Homo sapiens: one gene and its partners. The protein of the gene in region 3 purifies or fractionates together with the protein of the main gene of each other region. This does not show direct contact. Each region holds a gene or a part of one and is shown on either strand. Other genes may lie near its edges. The genes, in order: LRPAP1, DICER1, POP1, TOX4, RBM25, PPP1R10 and CCNT1.

Evidence for each region.
Region 1: the proteins of POP1 (region 3) and LRPAP1 purify together in Homo sapiens (affinity purification with mass spectrometry, with the first as the bait; one large-scale study listed by BioGRID). This does not show direct contact.
Region 2: the proteins of POP1 (region 3) and DICER1 purify together in Homo sapiens (affinity purification with mass spectrometry; one large-scale study listed by BioGRID). This does not show direct contact.
Region 4: the proteins of POP1 (region 3) and TOX4 purify together in Homo sapiens (affinity purification with mass spectrometry, with the first as the bait; one large-scale study listed by BioGRID). This does not show direct contact.
Region 5: the proteins of POP1 (region 3) and RBM25 purify together in Homo sapiens (affinity purification with mass spectrometry, with the first as the bait; one large-scale study listed by BioGRID). This does not show direct contact.
Region 6: the proteins of POP1 (region 3) and PPP1R10 purify together in Homo sapiens (affinity purification with mass spectrometry, with the first as the bait; one large-scale study listed by BioGRID). This does not show direct contact.
Region 7: the proteins of POP1 (region 3) and CCNT1 purify together in Homo sapiens (affinity purification with mass spectrometry; one large-scale study listed by BioGRID and IntAct). This does not show direct contact.

What each region holds. Positions count from the first base shown.
Region 1 is NC_000004.12:3,503,112-3,505,767, reverse strand, and holds the end of LRPAP1 (alpha-2-macroglobulin receptor-associated protein precursor), read left to right. Parts: 3' UTR 1-2,156; downstream 2,157-2,656. UniProt on the Homo sapiens protein: Molecular chaperone for LDL receptor-related proteins that may regulate their ligand binding activity along the secretory pathway.
Region 2 is NC_000014.9:95,151,030-95,154,529, reverse strand, and holds part of DICER1 (endoribonuclease Dicer), read left to right. Parts: intron 1-3,500. UniProt on the Homo sapiens protein: Double-stranded RNA (dsRNA) endoribonuclease playing a central role in short dsRNA-mediated post-transcriptional gene silencing.
Region 3 is NC_000008.11:98,134,293-98,137,792, forward strand, and holds part of POP1 (ribonucleases P/MRP protein subunit POP1), read left to right. Parts: intron 1-179; coding exon 180-367; intron 368-2,189; coding exon 2,190-2,446; intron 2,447-2,568; coding exon 2,569-2,662; intron 2,663-3,500. UniProt on the Homo sapiens protein: Component of ribonuclease P, a ribonucleoprotein complex that generates mature tRNA molecules by cleaving their 5'-ends. Also a component of the MRP ribonuclease complex, which cleaves pre-rRNA sequences.
Region 4 is NC_000014.9:21,483,695-21,487,194, reverse strand, and holds part of TOX4 (TOX high mobility group box family member 4), read right to left. Parts: intron 1-3,500. UniProt on the Homo sapiens protein: Transcription factor that modulates cell fate reprogramming from the somatic state to the pluripotent and neuronal fate. In liver, controls the expression of hormone-regulated gluconeogenic genes such as G6PC1 and PCK1.
Region 5 is NC_000014.9:73,120,967-73,124,399, reverse strand, and holds the end of RBM25 (RNA-binding protein 25), read right to left. Parts: 3' UTR 501-3,433; downstream 1-500. UniProt on the Homo sapiens protein: RNA-binding protein that acts as a regulator of alternative pre-mRNA splicing. Involved in apoptotic cell death through the regulation of the apoptotic factor BCL2L1 isoform expression.
Region 6 is NC_000006.12:30,607,244-30,610,743, reverse strand, and holds part of PPP1R10 (serine/threonine-protein phosphatase 1 regulatory subunit 10), read left to right. Parts: intron 1-788; 5' UTR 789-799; coding exon 800-906; intron 907-1,580; coding exon 1,581-1,667; intron 1,668-1,829; coding exon 1,830-1,965; intron 1,966-2,852; coding exon 2,853-2,904; intron 2,905-3,500.
Region 7 is NC_000012.12:48,696,208-48,699,707, forward strand, and holds part of CCNT1 (cyclin-T1), read right to left. Parts: intron 1,977-3,500; coding exon 1,931-1,976; intron 32-1,930; exon of another isoform or gene 1-31. UniProt on the Homo sapiens protein: Regulatory subunit of the cyclin-dependent kinase pair (CDK9/cyclin-T1) complex, also called positive transcription elongation factor B (P-TEFb), which facilitates the transition from abortive to productive elongation by phosphorylating the CTD (C-terminal domain) of the large subunit of RNA polymerase II (RNA Pol II).

The DNA of each region.
Region 1 (2,656 bases), on a different chromosome or scaffold from region 3:
GGTGGTGGTATAGACGGTCTTGGGGTAGCTGGTATAGACGGTCTTGGCGTAGCTGGTATAGACGGTCTTGGGGTAGCTGGTATAGACGGTCTTGGGGTAGCTGGTATAGACGGTCTTGGGGTAGCTGGTATAGACGGGCTTGGGGTAGCTGGTAGTGGTGCTCAGGAGGCGTGTGGGCTGCTGGTGCAGCTGGAAGCGCACCTCAGCCATGGTGTTGTGCCAGGTGTGGTTGGGGATGCAGGGGACGTTCCGGCCGCAGGAGGCCCCTGCCAGGCACAGGCAGCTGCGCGGTGTGGAAGAAGTGCCGCTCGGAGTCATGCTTGACAAGGAAGTACACCTTACTCCTCTCAGTGGTGAGGGGTCAAACCACTCCTTCCCAGCGATGGGGCCAGCAGCCTGGCGAGGGCTAGGCACCGGGGAGGGATGCTGGATTTGGAGCTGGGGGGAAGGGGTCACCCTGCATTGGGCTCCAGTGCTCCGGGTGCCATGCCTGCTCCCCCACCACTGCCACCGCAGCCGCTGCGGGACACCAGGGGCTGGGGCTGAAGAGCAGCCTCGAGCTGGGCTGTCCAGGACACGGTCGCCCTTCTTCCTCGTGTCCGTGAGCTCAGGCACAACCTGCAGCTTAGCCAGCCCACTATGGCTGCGTGCGTGGCAGGACCCGGGCCACCATGGCTGCGTGCATGGTAGGGCACATGATTATTTTAGCCTCTGGTATCACTAACCATCCCTAAAGTCTCCAATGGTCTGTTCCTGTCTTTCCCTCTGGTTCACTTGTGGGGTCATGTTGTCTTCTGTTCTTTGTTATTTATTTTTTTCTTGAGACGGAGTCTTGCTCTGTCGCCCAGGCTGGAGTGCGTTGGTGCGATCTCGGCTCACTGCAACCTCTGCCTCCCAGGTTCATGCGATTCCCCTGCCTCAGCCTCCCAAGTAGCTGGGATTATGGGCACCTGCCACCATACCCAGCTAATTTTTCTGTGTGTGTGTGTGTTTTGTTTTTTGGTTTTTTTTTTTTTTTTTTTGAGATGGAATCTCAATTGCTCAGGCTGCAGTGCAATGGCGCAATCTTGGCTCACTGCAACCTCCACCTCCTGGGTTCAAGAAATTCTCCTGCCTCAGCCTCGCAAGTAGCTGGGATTACAGGCCCCTACCACCACAGTGGGCTAATGTTTGTATTTTTAGTAGAGACAGGGTTTCACCATGTTGGCCAGGCTGGTCTCGAACTCCTGACCTCAGGCAATCCGCCCACCTCGGCCTCCCAAAGTGCTGGGATTGTAGGCATGAGCCACCATGCCTGGCCTAATTTTTCTGTTTTTAGTAGAGACAGGACTTCACCATGTTGGCCAGGCTGGTCTCAAATTCCTGACCTCAAGTGATGTGCCCACCTCGGCTGCCCAAAGTGCTGGGATTACAGGCATGAGCTTCTGTGCCCGGCCTGAACTGTTAAGTGTTTGTGAAGAATTATTTGGGGGCCTATTTGAGAGCTGTTATATGGATCATCCTCCTGGAGAGGGTTCTTAAGCCTCTGAGACCGGGTTTGGGGCTGAGGCTTTCTGACCCACACAAGTCATGCTGACCCCTGAAGGGCCGCAGGCCAGATCTTGCCAGGTGAGCACTTTCCCCGCTCACATTCAGGATAGGGCGAGGGGGTTGGTACCGATTCACCCTCAGGGCCTAGATTTGGGGGCTTCAGCTTGCTGCAGATAGGTGCTCCCTTCACTCTCACCTGAGGCTGGGCTGGAGCCTGGTGTCTGCCCCACCCTGCTGGTCAGCCCCCTAGGACCTGAGCCCCGTAAGCCTGGACTGGCCACGCCCTGGGGCAGCAGCACTGGGTGCTTGGCGCTCACGACCTTCCTGGGCCCCTGGGTCCCTCACTTCTCCCTTGTTTCTACCTTCCTGGCTTGTCAGATTCCCACAGCTCTTAAGGAGAAATTCAGTATTTACTGCAGCATGTGTTTTCAGTGTGATGGTTCATCTAGGTACCCTAGCCTGTCATTGCTGGAGTTGGAAATCTCTGTTGTCTGCTGTTGTTTTGTGAAACAAGCGCGTGAGGTTATAAGTTTCCCTCAACGTACCACACTAACCACATTTCCCTAAGTTTTGATGTGTAGTGTTTTCACTGCCATTCAGTTCAAAATATTTTCTCATTTCAAGTATGATGTCTTCTTTGATCCATGTGTATTTTTAAGTTGCTAAGTGTACTTACTTTGGCCGGGCATGGTGGCTTACGCATGTAATCCCAACACTTTAGGAAACTGCGGGGGGGAAGGATCACTTGAACGCAGGAGGCTGAGGCTGCACGTCACAGGGAGAGACGGGCCGCGGTGATGTACGAGCTTCCTGTTGATAGGCAGTTAAGTTGGTTCGGGATAACGTGGCCTGCCTGGCACGGGTATTCCCAGAGTCACAGATGCTCACCCGTGCCAGCGTTGGCTGCTTGGGACATGGGGACGGCGAGGTCCCCACACCCCACATGTGAGCTGCTGGTAGCTGGGCTGAGCCCAGGTCCCATCCGTGTGTGGGGCGTGAGTGTGCGGTGCCATCGGGTCTGCACGGGCCTCGCCTCGTCCCGGACGCTCCAGGCTTCCTGTGGCACGGGTGCCGAGAGGGACCAGCCTGGGCCTGCTGAACCGAGGGGGTGGTCTAGGGCAGAGGC
Region 2 (3,500 bases), on a different chromosome or scaffold from region 3:
TGGAAAAGCTGAATGGTATTTCATTGTATGAATATACTGCATTTTGTTTATCCATTCATCTGTCCATGGCCACTTGGGTAGCTTCTATCTTTTGGCTACTGTGAATAATGGTGCTGTGAACGTAGGTATACAAATAATTCATTGGAGTCCATGCTTTCCCTTCTTTTAGACATATACCTCAAAGTGGTCACATTGTTTCTTGATCTTCAAAACACTAGACTAGACTCAGAATTTATTGCAGTATGAGTTTTCTCAGGGTTCCTCCAAGCAGTGATAATTTCCTACAAACAACTCCTCTGTCAGTAAAATCTGTAATCTCTCTGAAGCCCAGGGTCGACTCCTTTTTACGATCTTGGTTCCAATCATAGTGTCTGGCAGGTATTCAAAAAACTGATCAAACATGGAGTGATGTGCTTTATTGAATGCCAGAGGAAGATATTGGTGAGGTCTTTAATTTGTATAAAGAGAAAGTTGGAGCCAAGTGACTTATTTTGTTTACCTTTTGCTGTGCTTTTTGGACATTCAAGAGCTTAGTTCATCCTGAAAGCCCAGTGTATGTATTATACTCGCTCTTATTCACAGGTTTCTTTGCAATTTACGACTTGCCAAATGACTAGTCTTCTGAGGCAGCATTATTTTCTTGGTATTCCACCTCCTTAGCCTGTGGGGCTTGGACCTTTTGATTTTTTGATGGCTAGTTTTCACTTCTTCCAAATTTCTGCTAAGACTCTAGTATTAGTACATTTATTTAATAGTTTATGATGTCTATTTTGAGAAAGGATTTGAAATGGTCTTATAATAGGAAAGTATTAGAGTACTATGAAAATGGTAAAGGTTGGTAGTATAGAATGTGGAGGCAGAGAATTAGATGAATGATTGGGGCAAGGAAAGGTGAGTGCTGCATGTAACTCACGTTGATTAATGAAAGGAAGCATACCAATTTGAAGCAGATTTTTCTCTTGTATGAAGAATAATCAATCTTTTGGATTATTACATTAAATAACATTAGCAATATATGGAGAAAATGTTTTACATTTTACAAACGATAGAGAAACATTTTTTCACATGCCATTTTAGAGAAACTGGATAAAAGCCTCAGGCATAATAGAAAAGCTTTAGTAATACAGGTGTTCACTGTTCCAGTGGTTTGATTCATTAATTTCTTTTGGGTGGTGTCCCTCGAATATCAGTTGTCTCATTCAGGCTGTTGACAGATGCTAAATAACAATCCATTCAGGAATAAGCTCTGTGGACAACATGGGCAGTGAGGATTTTCCAAATAGGAATTCTCACCCAGTCTTTTTTTTTTTTTTGAGACGGAGTCTCACTACGTTGCCCAGGCTGGAGTGCAGTGGTGCGATCTCAGCTCACGGCAAGCTCCGCCTCCTGGGCTCATGCCATTCTCCTGCCTCAGCCTCCCGAGTAGCTGGGACTACAGGTGCCCGCCACCACACCCTGCTAATTTTTTGTATTTTTAGTAGAGATGAGGTTTCACCGTGTTTAGCCAGGATGGTCTTGATCTCCTGACCTCGTGATCCTCCCGTCTCGGCCTCCCAAAGTGCTGGGATTACAGGTGTGAGCCACCGTGCCCAGCCCTCTCACCCAGTCTTTAGGAACGTGTGTTGGTCTAAAAAGTAAGACTGGTTGTATCGTGGTGTATACTTGATGAATTAATACAGAAAGAAAAAGATTATTTTTGAGATGTAGCTGGTGAAATTGACATTTTCAGTTATGTAATAAAGCCTTTGTTAAAATAATTCTGAGTGCAAAATGGCTTCCTCATCTAAAATTGTCAATGAATTGTTGGTACTCCTTTAACATGCAGTTACCTCAATATGCATTTTAAATAAGTGACTAAGAAGATGCTACAAAACATTCTCTGAGGATGTCAGTAAGACTGTTACTAGAAGTAAGACATGACAGGCTTAAGTTTGGCCTTAGAGTTTTTTCTTTTTGTTTTTTAGGCTTATAACAGCATTACATGTTCTTGGTTGTGTTAAGGTTTATGGAATAGTAAGGATTAGATTCTTCATGCATGTTCATTACCAGACATGGTGCTTGACATATAGGAGACACTCCGATTTGTTGAGTGAGTAAGTTAATTTATAATACTTTTTGAAGTATTTAGAAGCTAACACAGTTTTGTGGGGAAGAATATTGCTTGCATATTAAGGCTTTTAAAAAGATTATTACTATTCTGCTTTTGGACAAATCATGCTACTTGGTCCTTTTTGCTTTGTGAGGTACGTATGATTATGTGCACAGAAACATTGCAGACTGAGGGAAGTGTTAAGAATCGTGGGAGAAAATCGCCGTCAAAATTGGAGTTTAACTGTATTGCAGACTTTCTCCTTGTTGGCACAGACTAACTCTGTTGTGCTTGTTCGTTCTTTGACAGCTCAATGTATGCCATAAAGCAGGGGTTTTAACAACACATTTGAACAATTCTTGAGGATTAGAAAATGAGGTCTGTTAACCAGTTCAGAATTTTAAGAAAACAAACCGGTTGTACTTAGAGAACTTGAATAATGAGAGAAGACTCTTAGTTTAAAAACTGATCTTTGACATGATGTAGGAAGGTTCTTTGATTAAGAAGTTAAATGACCCTGTTTGAAGGGAAAAAGAAAGGTAGTAGTCGTATTTAGTCGTATTTAGTCCTCTGAGATGTTTCGAGATTGCAGGATTTCTGTCTTTCCTCTTTTGGTAACATCCTGGGAGGTGAGATTAACATGATGAACTCACAGCCTGTCCGCCTCTTATGCATCCTGCTGCCCAGCCATCACTGTCAGTTGCTCTGATTCATGGTATTTTAAGTTCTTTCCACTTTGCAGAGTTAAATATTAATGTTTTATCATAGCTTTGTAGGGATGCTTAAGAGCAAGTGTTTGGCGTCAGAGAGACCAGGGTTCAAATCCTGATTCTTCGACTTTATAGCCGATGAGCACTGGGCATATGGCAACGTCTCTTGAGTCTCAGCTTCCTTGTCTATAAACTGTCGTAGTGGTGTTTGCCTCTTGAGGTTTTGAGAAAAAAAAGGAGTTTCTTAAACTCTCATGGTACATAACTAGCATTTGATAAAATTAATGTAATATTTTTCTTTTAAATACGTGTATTAGAGAAAATTTTAACATGCAATAGTCTTAATGTGATTAGATTATATTGTGAGCCCCCAAATTATCAATATTGAAATGTATGGTCTAGTAATATAATGGAGGATGAAGGAAAAGAGGGCTTGAGAACAATATTTTACAGACAAGTTTTCGAGGAGGATTATCTATACTGGTTCAGCTATCTTAGTTGGTCTCTGTAGTAGTGATACCAAATGTAACAGTGCCTTAAACGTCTCTTAACTTTCCCTAAATAACACATTCTTCATCTGCTATGCATGAATTAACACATCATCCTTGAAATCATACTTCAATTCAGTGTATAAAGCCAAGTGTTTTGTAAAATAAACCTCAAGTTAGGTTTTATGTTTCCTTATGATTAGATTCAGGTTT
Region 3 (3,500 bases):
ACTCATTTAACACATATTTGTTGAGAACTTATTGTGTGCCAGGCTTTGATCTGAGCAATCCTCACAACCAAAACTTCACCTCTCATGGAGGCAGACAGTAAATGACAGTGTGGTTATCAGGAAATAGGACTGCAGTCTCAACACCCGGAATTATGGAATTTTGCTTTTGTTGATGTCAGGGCTGACGTTTGCAGCAGTTCACTGCTTGTCTGGAAAGCGCCAAGGGAGCCTTGTGCTTTATCGGGTGAATAAATATCCCAGAGAAATGCTTGGGCCTGTTACGTTTATCTGGAAGTCCCAGAGGACCCCGGGTGACCCTTCTGAGAGCAGGCAGCTGTGGATCTGGCTGCATCCAACCCTTAAACAGGTATAATCCTTCAGGTTATCTCCCGTCATTCTGAAACTGCATTTTTAATTACTGCTGGAAGTCAATACTGTAGAAATGTAAATAGTGTAAAGGTTTGTCTGATAGTCTGATATTTGTATATGGGGGGCTCTATGATTATTGAATGAAGTGAATTTTTAAAAAACTTTAAAAATTTGTATTTAAAAATGTCTAATTGACAAAAAGCAAATATATTCAAAGTATATAATATGATGATTTGATATACATGTTGTATACCACAATCAAATAACACATCCATCACCACCCATGCTGTACATTATATCCCCGGAACTTGTTTATCAAATATAATGAAGTCAGGGCGGGGCATGGTTTCTCATGCCTGTAATCCCACCACTTTGGGAGGCTGAAGCAGTTGGATCACTTGAATCCAAGAGTTTGAGACTAGGCTGGGCAACACGGTGAAACCCTGTCTCTGCAAAAAAGACAAAAATTAGCTAGGATTGGTGGCATGCACCTGTAGTCTCAGCTACTTGGGAGGCTGAGGCGGGAGGATCACTTTGAGCCCAGGAGGCAGAGTTGCAGTGAGATGAAATCGTGCTATTGCACTCCAGCCTGGGTGACAGTGAGACCCTGTCTCGAAAAAAAAAAAAACTAATCTTGACATCTCATATTTTTAGTAAGTCATAAGCAGAAGTAGAGATAAAAACCAGCCTTATGCTAATTATTTGAAATGTTGAATTTGAACTAATGTTTCTACCATGACTGAAGTGGTTCACTAGTATCTAGGGGCTATTTGATAATGAAAAGCTATTTTTGAGTAATTCTAATGATTTTTCACACTGAATTTAGCTTAGCTTCCCTTCTTTAGCATACTCACTACTTTAAAAAAATGTAGTCAGAGTGATCATGTTGTTTTCATAATATTTGACTAACCCTACCCCTAGCCCCAGCCCTAATTAACCCATTTGAAATTTTCAGTTTCAAAATTTTTTTTTGTTTAAAGTGGCATACACTACTCAGAACACCCAAAAAAGCTTTTTTTCAAAAATTAAAATTAAATTAAAAAAAATTTTTTTTTCCCAGAGGGTTTTGCTCTGTCATTGAGACTTGAGTGCAGTGGTGCAGTCATAGCCCACTGCAGCCTCTACTTCCCAGGCTCAAATGATCCTCCTACCTCAGCCTCCCCGAGTAGCTTAGACTACAGGGGTGCACCACCTTGTCCAGCTAATTATTTTTTTATTTTGTGTAGGAACAAGGTCTCCCTATGTTGCCCAGGCCATGGTCTCAAACTCCTGGGCTGAAGCCATCCTCCTGCCTCAGCTTCCCAAAGTGCTGAGATTACAGACGTGAGCCACCACACCTGGCCGAAAAAAGCTTTTTGATGATAAATTTAATTTAAGTTAATTTGTGAGGGAATACAAATGTGATTTTTTTTTATTTTTTATTTTTTATTTTTTTTTGAGACGGAGTCTTGCTCTGTTGCCCGGGCTGGAGTGCGATGGCACGATCTCAGCTCACTGCAACCTCTGCCTCCCAGGTTCAAGTGATTCTCCTGCCTTAGCCTCCTGAGTAGCTGAGATTATAGGTGCCTGCCACCCAACTATTTTTTGTATTTTTCAGTAGAGATGGAGTTTTGCCAGTTGGTCAGGCTGGGCTCGAACTCCTGATCTCAGGTAATCTACCCACCTCGGCCTCCCAAAGTGCTGGGATTACAGGTATGAGCCACCGTGCCTGGCCAAAAATGTTAATTTTTAAAGAGATTTAAAAAAAAAAACCCAACTAAATTTGTCGTAATATATTTAAATTTCAAGATTTTAAAGTGAATGTTTAAATATATTTTTAGGATATCTTAGAGGAAATAAAAGCAGCGTGCCAGTGTGTGGAACCCATCAAATCAGCTGTCTGCATCGCTGACCCACTTCCAACACCATCCCAAGAAAAAAGCCAAACTGAATTGCCTGACGAGAAAATTGGCAAGAAAAGAAAAAGGAAAGATGATGGAGAAAATGCTAAACCAATTAAAAAAATTATCGGTGATGGAACTAGAGATCCATGTCTACCATACTCTTGGATCTCTCCAACCACAGGCATTATAATCAGGTATGAGTTGAATTTGCTTTGAACCTACTGAACATTTTCAGTGAAGACCTGCTCCATTTTTGTCAGTGGCACAGATGTTGTGTGATGAAAGTTTCCATTTTAAGATGTTCTTTCTTTTTCAGCGATTTGACGATGGAGATGAACAGATTCCGGCTGATTGGGCCACTTTCCCACTCCATCCTAACTGAAGCAATAAAAGCTGCTTCTGTCCACACTGTAAGAGTAAAAGTGACTGTAGTGTTTTATTCTAATCATGTTTTTCCTGTCAAATTTGTGAAACCTAATATATAATTTGGTAACATTTTGGGCCATGGCTTTTAGATGTTTATTTCCCTACTTATTATGCTTATTATCAAAGATTTTGTTATCTTTCACTTCTCCTAGAAGACCACAACTAAGTGGATATGATCAGTAAACTGACTGTTCTTACTTAAATACAGACTGCTCTTGCATCTGTGAGTCTTGTAGAGGGTCTTAACTTCTGCTTCATAGGTAGGGAGTCTCTAAAATCCCTGAAATTGTGTGCCAGATTTTGTGATGTGTGCGTGTGCCATGTAGGTTTTCTTTTCTTTTTTTTTTTCTGAGATTGAGTCTCATCCTGTTGCCCAGGCTGGAATGCAGTGGTGCGATCTTGGTTCACTGCACCCTCTGCCTCCTGGGTTCAAGCGATTCTCCTGCCTCAGCCCCCCGAGTAGCTGAGACTATAGGTGCACACCACCAGGCCCAGCTAGTAGAGACAGGGTTTCACCATGTTGGACAGGCTGGTCTGGAACTCTTGACCTCAGGTGATCCGCCCACCTTGGCCTCCCAAAATGCTGGGATTACAGGCATGAGTCACCGCACCTGGCTGGTTTTCTGGGGCTAGTTTTAGGGGTCTAGAATCTCTAAAAAGGTTAAGAGCAGTATGTCTAGGGCAGCACTTCCAGTAGAGCTTTCTGTGAGGATGATGTTCCTTTGTGCTGTCCAGTACGACAGCCATTAGCCACATGTGGCAGTTGAATACTTGAATTGTGGCTAGAGTGACTGAGGAACTGAATTTATACCTTTACTTAAC
Region 4 (3,500 bases), on a different chromosome or scaffold from region 3:
TCTTTTGTCTTAAATTATGCCTATGGTTCTAATGAAAAATTCTTTCAGTACCATTACTTAGGACATAGCCTTTATAACCTGTTTACTATGATTCTTGAAATCTCTCTCTAAAGATTCTAATAGAGCAGTTATTTCACAATTATTACATCTAAACTGTTAGGTCACAGAAATTCGCTGTCAGCCAGCCAATTATACTTTGTTGTTTTAGGTTCCTTTCAAACAGATGCTAAAATGTACTGTCATGGGAACTTTACCCCCTCTAAAATATTTGCAGAGTTTCCTACTTCTTCTCCACTTTAGAAATTATAATGTTAACAACAAATAAAGATTCCCATTAGTATAGGATTTTCAGAAAACCTCAACAATGCCAAAAATGCTAGTCTTGCTCTGACCAAGCTTCTCTCTAAGAGAGGAAAAGGATTACTCCAGTTGGCTAAAGACCCAATCTCTTCCTCTGAGTCCAACTAGGTCAATAATAACACATTCTTTCTTTTCTGAATGAGGCCACCACTCATGCAGCTAACAGACAATGTCTGATTAAGATGTGAACTGCTATGGTTCTGTTTTGACACTAAAATCTAAATGGTGGCATTTACAGCAATAGACATTTATAAATAATAGCAAGAGACTGCTGTCAGAGAGACCTGGGTACAAGACCTTGAACAAGTTTTCTTCATCTGTAAAATGGGAATTATAATGGTAATCCCCTTATATGGTTATTATGAGGATAAGTGAGATTTCATGCATAAAATCTTAGCACATTGCCTGATACATATAATGGCTTAATCACCATCATTAACCATTGTTATGAATGATAATATCCTAATAATGATTACCCCCACCCCAACCAATTATAACAGATAATTGGAATTTTAGAAACTTTAAATTCTATCAATCTAACACATAGCATAGTAAATATAAACTGATTCAGATCAAATTCAATAGGTACCAACATTTTTTTTTTTCATAATTGAACAATGCATTCTTTAAATAGAGTTCCTAAAGGTTCCTTTTCTTTTTTTTTGAGATGGGGTCTTGCCCTGTCACCCAAGCTGATCTGGAACTCCTGGGCTCAAGCAAGCCTCCAGCCCCAGCCTCCCGAGTAGCTGGGACTACAGGTATGTGCCACCACACCCAGCTAATTTTTAAAATTTTTTGTGGAGACGAGCTCTCCCTGTGTTGCCCAGGCTAGTCTCGAACTCCTGGACTCAAGTAATCCTACTGCCTCGGCCTCCAAAGTGTTGGGCTTACAGACCTCAAGGTTCCTCTAGATCCTGAAATGTTCTTCTATTATGACCATTTCTGTCTTTTTTTTTTTTTCTTTTTTTTGAGACAGAGTCTCGCTCCGTGGCCCAGGCTGGAGTGCAGTGGCGCGATCTTGGCTCACTACAACCTCCACCTCCCGGGTTCAAGCAGTTCTCCTGCCTCAGCCTCCAGAGTAGCTAGGACTACAGGTGTGTGCCACCACGCCCAGCTAATTTTTGTGTTTTTTAATAGAGACGGGGTTTCACCATGTTGGCCTCGATCTCTTGACCTCGTGATCCACCCGCCTCAGCCTCCCAAAGTGCTGGGATTACAGGCATGGGCCACCGCACCTGGCAGTTTTTTTTTTTTTTGAGATAGAGTCTCCTTTGTCACCCATGATAAAATGCAGTGGCGTGATATTGCTCACTGCAACCTCCGCCTCCTGGGTTCAAGTGATTCTCCCACCTCAGGTTCCCAAGTAACTACAGGTGCACACCACCATGCCAGGCTAATTTTTATTATTATTTTATTTTTGAGACAGAGTTTCACTCTTGTTGCCCAGGCTGGAGTGCAATGGCGTGATCTCAGCTCACCGCAACCTCCGCCTCCCAGGTTCAAGTGATTCTCCTGCCTCAGCCTCCCTAGTAGCTGGGATTACAGACATGTGCCACCATGCCCGGCTAATTTTGTATTTTTAGTAGAGACGGGGTTTCTCCATGTTGGTCAGGCTGGTCTTGAACTCCCGACCTCAGGTGATCCGCCCTCCTTGGCCTCCCAAAGTGCTGAGATCACAGGCGTGAGCCACCACGCCTGGCCATGACGCCAGGCTAATTTTTGCATTTTTTGTAGAGATTGGGTCTGGCCATATTGCCCAGACTGGTCTTGAACCCCTGGGCTCAAGCCATCACCCTGCCTTGACCTCCCAAACTGTTGGGATTACAGGCATGAGCCACAGCGCCCAGCCTCTAATTCTGGTTTAATGAAGACATTAGGCTGGGAGCAGTGGCTCACGCCTGTAATCCCAGCACTTCGGGAGGCCCAGGTGGGCGGATCACACGAGGCCAGGAGTTCGAGACCAGCCTGGCCAACACAGTGAAACCCGTCTCTACCAAAAGAACAAAAAATTAGTCAGGCATGGTGGCACACACCTATAATCCTAGCTACTCGAGAGGCTGAGGCACGAGGATCACTTGAACTCAGGAGTCAGAGGTCACAGTGAGTCAAGACTGCACCACTGCAATCCTGCCTGGGCGACAGACCAAGACCATGTCTAAAAAAAAAGAAAAAGAAAGAAAATAAAGGCCGGGTGCCGTGGCTCATGCCTATAATCTCAGCACTTTGGGAGGCCGAGGTGGGTGGACCACCTGAGGTCAAGAGTTCGAGACCAGCCTGGCCAACATGGCGAAAATCCATCTCTACTAAAAATACAAAAATTAGCCAGGTGTGGTGGCAGGTGCCTGTAATGCCATCTACATCAGGAGGCTGAGGCAGGAGAATCACTTGAATCCAGGAGGCAGAGGCTGCAGTGAGCCGAGATTGTGCCACTGCACTCCAGCCCGGGTGACAGAGCAAGACTCTGTCTCAAAAAAAAAAAAAAAAAAAAAAAAAAAAAAAAAAAAAGACATTGCTAGAAAGAAAATTTCCAGCTAGCAGAAACTAGGGAGAAAAAAGTGTGCCTGTGAAATGCCCAATCTCTGAATCACATTTGTAAAAGTTTCCTAAAAGACAAAAAGATATATGTACAGTTTCCCTTCTCCTTACTATTTTACTTGGTATGGTAAAAAATCTGGTCGTTGTCTGAGATATAAGTAGCACACGGAGCATAAGAACACACAGTTCTCAGCTGGTAGTGGTGGCTCACACCTGTAATCCCAGTACTTTGGGAAGCCAAGGTGGGTGGATCACTTGAAAAGTCGGGAGTTCGGGACCAGCCTGGCCAACATGGAAAACCCCATCTCTACTAAAAATACAAAAATTAGCTGGGTGTGGTGGTGTGCGTCTGTAATCCCAGCTACCCAGGTGGCTGAGGCACGAGAATCGCTTGAACCCAGGAGTTGAAGGCTGCAGTGAGCCAAGATCACATCACTGCACTCCAGCCTGGATGACAGAGCAAGACTCTGTCTCACACGCGCACACACACACACACAAATAACAAAAAATACCACGCAGTTCTTGATGGGAAAAACTGAAACTTTCCCCAAGAACTGAACTTTTCTCAGTAGTACACAAATCATGTATTTATGTATGTTGTTTTG
Region 5 (3,433 bases), on a different chromosome or scaffold from region 3:
GCAGACCCTATCTCAAACAAACAAACAGAAAGATTTCACGTGAATGCATGTAAAACTACTTGTCATTAGTGGTTATTTAATAGTGCAATGCTAGACCATGAATTAGAACCCCATATATACTCCTCTAGATAAACCACCTGCAGGGACTACTGACATAATTACAATGGGCAAAACAGACTAGGTGACCTCTAAAGCCCCTTCCACATATTACTACTTCTACTGAGAATCTTCCTATTTCCCATTTCCTCTCAGCTTATCACATTTGATAATTCACATAGTATTTTGTATTTATGTCTAATGATGTTCCTGAACTCGTGTAATTTTTTTTGCCACCATTAGATGATCAGCTAACAGAAATACATGTATTTTTTTGAGATGGAGTTTTGCTCTTGTTGCTCACGCTGGAGTGCAGTGGCGCAATCTCGGCTCTCTGCAACCTCCACCTCCTGGGTTCAAGATGCTGTCTCAAAAAAAAAAAAAAAAGTAGACAGACTCAGGAGTGTCATTTAATTCAAACAACATGGCTTGAAAAGAATTTTTATTTTTGTTTCTAGAAATTATCTTCTTTACCTGGGTATTTTAGACTGCCATTCTTTAATTTCGCCTTCATGACTCAAGTAATGAAATGCAAAGATTCTGTCAATTAAAAATGTAAGCATTCAAATGCAAATAAATTAACATAAATATTTCAGTATTTTACCATAATCACATTACAAAAAATCTATCAGTTTATCAAAAAGTGTAAGTTCACTTCGCTCTATAGTATGATTGTTATATTAGTAGCTCCTGGGTTTGGTATGTATCTCCCTGTTTTCTTCTTGACAGCTAGACTGTTTCTTTGCCTGCTTGGGATTCCTTCTCATACCCTTTTATCTCCAGTGACATTCACAAATCAATCCCTCATCATCTTTTGTTGAGCAAAACTATTTCTCAATTTCATACTTAACAGAAGACTGAAATACAACCCAGAGAAGTTTGTAATCAATTTGACATAAAACCTCTCAGCAGTCTTTTGGGTATAAATTGGGGATATCATAAAACCTGTTAAAAAGAGTTGGGAAAATAAGCCTCATCTAAACATTGTATACCTGCTTACACTTATTTGCATTAAATTTATTCCATTAAAAAGGAGAAAAAAAGATAGTGTCTAGTTCAAATTGGCTCTCAAGCTAAATGTTTTCTCAGTTTTTCTACTATATCTAGTATTCATGGCAGATTAATACCTGAAACAGCACGCTTCACAAAATAATCATTAGCTTACACTTACATAGTTTACAGGGAAATGCCATAATAAGATTCAGAATAAGTTACAACATAAAGTTATCTACAGAAAAAATTTTCAGGGCTGGATGGAAAAAAAGCCTAGAATATTAGGGCTTTCTCAGACATAATTTTGCAAGATTACATTACGTTCATGAGTTACGTGTATTTGCCTCAAAAAATGTTTTTCTCTTTAAAATCTACTTAAAGGAAAATTCAGCTGCATTTATGTAGTCTGTTAGGATAAAATAATACTGAATAGACACCTTAAAGTGCTAATCAAAATGTAGTCTTGGATCAGTTGGCAATGACATTAGCTGGGAGCTGTCCAGAAATGCAAAGCCTGCGGCGCCACCCCAGCGCTGCTACTTCAGTGTCTCTATTTCTACAAGCACTCCTCAGATGATTTGGGGTCACATTAAAGTTTAAGAAAAACAACTTCAAACTTACCTTTCTTCCTTGTGAACAGATGTACATACTTTATTTTTAGGGACAAATAAAGAAAAGTAGTATTCTACTACTTTTTTGCCAGATCAAGACTGGTTCTTAAGATGTTCACGCTTTGGCCAGGCAAGGTGGCTCACGCCTGTAATACCAGCACTTTGGGAGGCTGAGGCGGGTGGATCACCTGAGGTCAGGAGTTTGAGACCAGCCTGGCCAACAAGGTGAAATCCTGTCTCTACTAAAAATACAAAAAATTAGCCAGGTGTCGTGGTGGGCACCTGTAATCCCAGCTACTCAGAAAACTGAAGCAGAATATCTCCAGAACCCGGGAGGCGGAAGTTGAAGTGAGCTGAGCTCGCGCCATTGCACTCCATCCTGGGCGACAAAAGCACAACTTCCTCTCAAAAAAAAAAAAACCCCAAAAAAACAACAAAAAAAGACTTTCATGCTCTTTATATAACAACTTGAAATGGCAAAATGAATTCATACTGTATAAGGTTTTCAAACTAAAATTAATTTATGAGATTATGGTAAAATTAACCCACAAAGTTCAAGCAACTTAATAGAAATTTCTTATGTGTATTTTCAGACACTAGAATATGCCTGTTTAATGTCTAATTCTTTATATATACAATTCTAAAAATCAACCAACTCTGACAATCTAAAGCCTTTTACTGAAGCTTGGTTACAAAACATGATTTAAACTGGCATTAAGCGATTAACAGTTTCTACCACATTTACTGTAACAATTTTCACTCTGCTGCAGAAACTTTAATATATGAACTTGCACAAATTCATATATTTAGTTGAGGTCCTGTCACAAACCTCACTGGAGATGTTATGCAGTACAGAGTACATCTCCCCAAAGGTTTCAGATTACGACATCTCCCTTGTTTTTAGAGTGGCCCTTTAAGATAAGTACAGTTGACAGAGCAGGAGAAGAAACGAAGCAAAGGAAATCAAATCTACCTGAATAAACCTTCATGTTAATAGTGGCTAAATAAAAACAACACAATATGATGCTTAAGAACAGTGCAGTATGTTAAGAAAAGACAGACACAATAAACTCCTCGAACAAGGTCTTAGGCTGGGGGTGTGTCTAAGAAAAGACTGAAAAATTAACGAAAATGGCAAGGGGCATCTTTTCTGAAATTTTCCGTTGAGAAACCAGAATTTAAAATAAAAGAGACATTTCCATAGATGTATAGTAGATTCATCCAAAATAATGTAAATGGCTTCCTTGACCTTTAGATACCAATAGTCATAAAAATCAAGTCCATAAAAAGTTCAGCCCATATTTTTAACTTTTCTAGTATGCACCACACAATTACAACATGATGCCATTTATTTACATGATTCTGAAAGAATATGAGTCCCCAGGATCAAATATATACATTTTTAATATTTGAAATATTTACATAATGGAACCACATCAGGGTTCGAGGGTAAGAACAGTGTTTTCAAATGTCCTCTCCAGGTGTGTTTAAAAAAAAAAAAAATCCAGTAATCCAAAGCTCACATTATGCTTTTTCTAACAGGCCAATCTTTACCTTTCTTTTAAATAAGTACTCAGACATGGGAACAGTTGCATCTAATTTGTGTGAAAAGCTGTTTAAAACTTCTTACGTTTTCAGGTAATTTTACTCCCTGGTGAAATTCTGATCTACAACGAAGAAAGCCCCAGGAATTTCTCTAAGCACATCATCAGTACATTTTTAAACACTAATGA
Region 6 (3,500 bases), on a different chromosome or scaffold from region 3:
GGACCAGATTCGCATCTTTGCTTTTGAAAGCACAAACCACTAGCTTCCTTTTAACTTAGAGACAGTAAAAACTTGTGTAGTGTTTGGCTAATGAGTGACAGTCTATTCAAGGTCTAGGAGGACCTGCTTGATTTCCATGCATCCATTTGTCTCAATCTCTGGCACCTACTCCCAGATCTCCTTAGGGAGGGATTCTGTTTTCAAGTTTTGTTTTGTTCTCCATCATCTACCACTTCAGCTGATACATATCTTGCCATGTGTAGTGATTATGACTCTTAATGGGCTAAGATAAAAAGGACTCAAGTCTTATAAGACATTTAGCTCAAACACCCAAGATTGGCCCAATTTCTATCAAGCTATAGGCTGTTTTTCAAGCCAAATTTATCAGCAACTAGGGAAGACAGGACTTAACGATAGGTGTAAATGCCCTGGAGAGTTGAACATCTTGTTATGGGAACTGATCTTAGCTTTAATACGATCTAGTGAAGTTCAGCCATCCTAGGAAGGATGCTGCTGGGAGGGAGGGACAGGTGTGCTGCCCTACTCCTCCAATCGAATTGCTTTCCTGTTCAGTCACATATGCTCCCCATGCTTAACTTGCCAGGGCTATTTTCTCAGTAGTGGCAAGTGGTCTGTGTCGATTTTTCATATCTAAAAAATAGCATAGTTGAATAATTAGTCATTATACTTTGTCAAATATAGAGATGTGGTTTATTAGAGGGCCTACTCGGGTAGTCCTTGCCACCCATTTATTCTGTGGGTTTGTTTGTTTTGTCCTCTTACCATAGAAACCACCATCATGGGTTCGGGTCCCATAGACCCCAAAGAACTTCTCAAGGGCCTGGACAGCTTCCTTAACCGAGATGGGGAAGTCAAAAGTGTGGATGGGATTTCCAAGATCTTCAGGTGAGTCTTTACCCCTTTTTGTATTCACTGTGAGTAGAGAATATTGTGTGTTAAAACATGGCTGCAGTTGAGGCACACTGGAATGATCCTGGAAAGGAAAGGGAAAGATAGTCAGTGCAATAGGATTAAAATGTAACAATTTTAGGATAAGGGATAGGAAAAGATGATCACTTGTTTCTGACCATAATGGAAACTGGAGATTTGGACGTCCACGGTCCCAAGGGAGTCATGCTTTGGAATGAGAGCAGGGTAGCCTGGTAACAGAATTCTAGATTGTTTTGGTTCGTGTTCCACCTACCCATAATGTTATTTTCCTTCAGGGATTCTCAGGTTTTTCAGGGGAGAGTAAATAACTAAGCCAGTCTTGAACAGACTATTAGGGACAGTTGTTGAGGGATAGCCTTATCACCTGGAGGCAGAATGGAATTCATCCTGTGTGTTACGGAGGCAGCGATGCTCTCCTCCCCAGGTCAGAGACTGCGGTGTCTCTGTTCTCCCATAAGTTTCCATGTCACACTGGATCCATCCCATCTTCCTAGAGGTATATGTGACTCCCCTTCTCTGGAGCAAAGTCCCAAGTCATTAGGAATCTCTAGGCAGTTCACAGAGAGGCGCTTTTGCTAAGAGAAGAGATACTGGCTGCTTCATTTCTAACCCTAACTCATCTTCTGCAGTTTGATGAAGGAAGCACGAAAGATGGTGAGTCGATGCACTTACTTGAACATTCTCCTGCAGACCCGTTCACCAGAAATATTGGTCAAGTAAGTGGGGATCTGGATGGTTGGAATGGGAAGGTGTAGCGAAAAGATGGGGCGGTGAGGCATGGGGTTCCTCGGTCATTGATGGGAGACTGGGATTGTAGGATGTGGTACTGTCAAAACCTAGAAAGGGCATTACTGATAGACTCTCCTGCCTGCCTGCAGATTTATTGACGTTGGCGGCTACAAACTTCTTAACAATTGGCTGACGTATTCAAAGACAACCAACAACATTCCCCTCCTCCAGCAAATTCTACTGACCCTGCAGCATCTACCGCTCACTGTAGACCATCTCAAGCAGGTACCTTTAGTCTTTAAACCCTGATTCTTCCTTTTTTGGTTTAGTCTAATGGATGAAAAACTCAAACTGACTGATGTGGCTGTAATCTTGGGCCTGTGAGGTAGAACAGCAGAAAAAAAATAGGAATTTAGAAGAAGAAGACTTGGTTTGAATTTATCTCCTTTAATAGGTGTGTGGCGGCTGGGCACGGTGGCTCACGCCTGTGATCCCAGCACTTTGAGAGGCTGAGGCGGGCGGATCATGAGGTCAGGAGACTGAGACCATCCTGGCTGACGTGGTGAAACCCCGTCTCCACTAAAAATACAAAAAATTAGCCAGGCATGGTGGCATGCGCCTGTAGTCCCAGCTAATCAGGAGGCTGAGGCTGGAGAATCGCTTGAACCCAGGAGGTGGAGGTTATTGTGAGCCGAGATCGCACCACTGCACTCCAGCCTGGGCGACAGAGTGAGACTTCGTCTCAAAAAAAAAAAAAAAAAAGGAATGTGTCAGCCAGGTGTGGTGGCTCACACCTGTAATCCCAACACTTTGGGATGCTGAGGTGGGTGGATTGCTTGAGCCCAGTAGTTCAAGACCAGCGTGGGCAAAAATGATAAAACTCTGTCTCTACAAAAAATACAAAAAATTTACCCAGATGTGGTGGTGCATGCCTGTAGTCTCAGTTATTTAGGAGGCTCAGGTGGGAGAATCATTTGAGCCTGGGAGGTCGAGGCTGCAGTGAGCCAAGACTGCGCCACTGCACTCTAGCCTGGGCAACAGAGTGAGACTCCGTCTCAAAAAATAAAAAAAAAAAAAAAAGCAGGGAGGACTGTAACTTTTGTCGTTTTTAGCTCTAAGTGGAATTATTTGCCTCCTGGCATTTACCTTTCTGCTGCTCCCATCTCTCATAGAACAACACAGCTAAACTGGTGAAGCAGCTGAGCAAGTCAAGTGAGGATGAAGGTAGGGTGCCACTTCTGCTCTCTCATGGGCTTTTCTCTATTACTTCCACTTAATTACCTTAATATCTTTTCCCATCCTTGGATTGTCCCTTCACTTTTCTCTTTCTACCTCACCTTGCTTTTTTTCCTTCTTTTAAAGAGAAAGTTCCTCTAACCTGTACCCTCTTTCCTGTTCTCAATTCCAAAGTTGTTCATTTCTCTGTTGCTGAATATAAGGTGCCATACTTTAACTGGAAGCTGATTCCTAAAATTGCTTGTTATAAAACACATACACTTAAAATTTGCTGTGGGAAATAGTATCATCCTAGCGTGTCTCATCTGTGAAACTCCTATTACTAAATGATAAATTATGAAATGAGTTTATAAGTGGAAATGTTGGCCAGAAGAGAGGTGCCATAGATCAGAGATGTTATTTGCCAAGTACAAAAGGAAAGAGTTACAAAGTATTTTTTCATATATTTAGAAACAAATTTTATTCTTGTTTTCACATCTATAAAGGAAAATAAAAAGTCTTCAGATTGTTGTAACAATTAGGTGTGTTATACATAAAGCAACTAACGTAGCTTTTTAAAAAAATGTCAGTTTTTGAGGAACTGG
Region 7 (3,500 bases), on a different chromosome or scaffold from region 3:
TCTCAGCCCAAAGCTAAAACTCTCCATTATTTAAAAAAAAAAAAAAAAAAAAAAAAAAAGGCTTAAAAATAGACAGGAGAGTAAGAAGGGTAAGAAATATGCAATGCTCTGATCTAGCACTCAATATAATTTCCTATTAACCCACCTGTTCAGGTAACAACATTTTAAAAACTCTTGAATTACACATCACTTAATCTACACATTGACCAGAGCCAAAAAAAAAAAAAAGGAAAAAAGGAAAAAGGCTGGGAATTCAAGTTCTTTAAAACATTGACTTCTGGGCCAGTATTCAAGCCTAGAAGTCAATATTTATTACCTATTATCCTGAGACTAAGCTCAGATCCTAAGGAAAATTGTAAGCTTTTTGGTCTGTGTAATCCGTAAATCAAAAACTTAAGGAAATATCTTAAAAATAATTTGTCTCTCACCAATCATAGTTCTGGTCTATTTAAAATAATAAACAGACAACTACTCTCTCAAGTATAAATATGTTGGTTTATTTCAAAACTTTTTCGTAACAGGCTATAAAAATGAACTTCTTAGCCCTGACAGTTACTAGGGATATCATTGGTTTCCATTAACTAACAATGTTGGGCAAGTCATTTGGTAATACAAGTTATGTACTAATCATTTACTTTTTTTAGACAGAGTCTCTCTCTCTGTCACCCAGGCTGCAGTGCAGTGGGGCAATCTCGGCTCACAGCACCCTCTGCCTCCTGGGTTCAAGCAATTCTCGTGCCTCAGCCTCCCGAGTAGCTGGTACTACATGCATGTGCCACCTTGCCCTGCCAATTTTCGTATTTTTTAGTAAAGATGTGGTTTCACCATGTTGGCCAGGTTGGTCTCGAACTCCTAGCCTCAAGTGATCCACCAGCCTCAGCCTGGGATTACAGGTATGAGCCACTGTGCCCAGTCTCATTTACTTTTTTTAAAAAGGGAAGAAGGAAAAAGACTGAAACTCTTAACATCCATAAGTGCCCATTGATTGATAGAGGGGGAAGAAAAAGGAATATTTTAAAATATAATTATTGGCCAGGCACAGTGGTTTACACCTGTAATCCCAGCACTTTGGGAAGCCAAGGCAGGCGGATCACTTGAGGCCAGGAGTTTGAGACCAGCCTAGTCAACATAGCGAAACCCCATCTCTACTGAAAATACAAAAAAATTAGCGGGGCATGGTGGCGCCAGTCTATAATCCCAGCTTAGTGAAGAGGCTGAGGCCGGAGAATCACTTGAACCCGGGAGGCAGAGGTTGCAGTGAGCCAAGATCGCACCACTTCAGTCCAGCCTGGTAGACAGAGTGAGACTCTGTCTTAAAAAAAAAAAAATATATATATATATATATATATATGCCTGTAATCCCAGCACTTTGGGAGGCTGAGGTGGGCAGATCACGAGGTCAGGAGATCGAGACCATCCTGGTTAACAAGGTAAAACCCCATCTCTACTAAAAACACAAAAATTAGCTGGGCGTGGTGGCGGGTACCTGTAGTCCTAGCTACTCGGGAGGCTGAGGCAGGAGAATGGTGTAAACCTGGAAGGTGGAGCTTGCAGTGAGCTGATATTGTGCCACTGCACTCCAGCCTGGGCAACAGAGCAAGACTCTGTCTCAAAAAATAATAATAATAATTTAAAAAAAAAAAAAAAAATATATATATATATATATATATACACATATAATTATTGCAGAATACTCCAAATTAGATTTTCAGTCACTATCATGCAGAACTGAGTAGGTTATCAAAAAAATCAGTACTAAATAATTACATAACCTTAGAAAATTAAAAAGTACCATGGAAATTTAAAGTACAACATGAAAACTGTGCAGAAAAATCAACATTCACCAGAGAATTATCTATAGCACACTGTATCAAACTCAAGTAAAGTCCTATACCAAAAATCGAAGAGAAAAAAAAATTAAAATATAAACCTGTTGGTTGCCATGAAGTAAGAAGTCTGTGCTAAGTCCTTGCTTGCTAAAGAAAAAAAAAAAAAGTCAGGGGTGGGGGAGGAAAAAAGTTATTAGTTCCATTCATTCTCAACAAATATTTAGTAAGCATTTAATATTTGCAAGGTACTGTGAATATAGTGGCAAATGAGACACACATGGTCCCTGTAAACCTGACGTTTACATTCTGCCAAAGTAGACAGATCAATGATTTTTAATTTTAACATTAATAACTATGCTGCTTCCAGATCTAGGTACTCAAGCTTTATTCTGCACACCACATATCTGAGGTACTTGTTTAAATGCAATTCTTGGACCTGCTCCCTAAAATTTAATTAAATGTTTGGAGAAGGGTGCAAGCATTTTTTAACAAGTAACCCAGAGATTCTGATGTAAGGATTCACTGAGAATCACTAAACTACAGGATGAACTAAGATGATCTAGAAGCAAGATCAGAATCTAGAAGACTTTGACATATTTGGGAAAAGTGACTTTTGCTGTTAAGAAAGTTTTTAATTAAGGCTGGGCACGGTGGCTCACGCCTGTAATCCCAGCACTTTGGGACGCCGAGGTGGGCGGATCACCTGAGGTCCAGAGTTCAAGACCAGCCTGACCAACATGGAGAAACCCCGTCTCTACTAAAAATAAAAAATTAGCTGGGGTGGTGGCGCATGCCTGTAATCCCAGCTACTCGGAAGACTGAGGCAGGAGAATCGCTTGAACCCGGGAGGCGGAGGTTGTGGTGAGCTGAGATCGTGCTACTGCACTCCACCCTGGGCAACAAGAGCAAAACTCCGTCTCAAAAAAAAAAAAAAGTTTTTAATTAAGTAGCCCTAATTAAGATTTAATTAATTAATCCCCAAATCATCAAATAATGTAATATATTACAATGAAAAAATTTAACTTCTTCCAAAACAAACTGTTCTGGGTGACAAAGCAAATTTTTATCTTCCTCAGGACATAGTCTTCTCAATATTAACATACACCCATCTCTAGTCTTATCCTTGTGCAATATAACATTTTAATACTTTCAAATATAAAGAACTCAGGAAAATTTGGGAATTTTCACAGGAAACACATATTAGTAAAATGTAAAATAAGACCAATTATCAGTTTGGCCTAAAAATCATAAAAGGCACTTAAAGGCACAATAGTGTTCAGATATTCTTGATACTAAACTAAATAAGAGAGTTTCATTCAATTATACCTAATATTGTTAAATTAGAATTAAAAAGAAAAGTTCTGCCAAGGGATTGTATATCATGGAAAGTCCAAATAAATTCTGTATGATCCTCTAGGTGGCCTTTAATCAACCCCAGAATTAAAATAAGATCACCCACTCCTCACAACTTTCATAAAATTTCTGTTAAATAACTTCACAAACTGCCCAACTTTGACAAACATTCTCAAGAGGTTAGTTCTCTTTAACTAGAGATCATCTAAAAATATTACTTGTAAGAACCCAACAGAAAAACATCAAGTCAGAACAACTCATTTTGATTTAAGCCAAGTAGGCCTTTAAATTTAGCCAAAGCAGAACTATTATGTATTG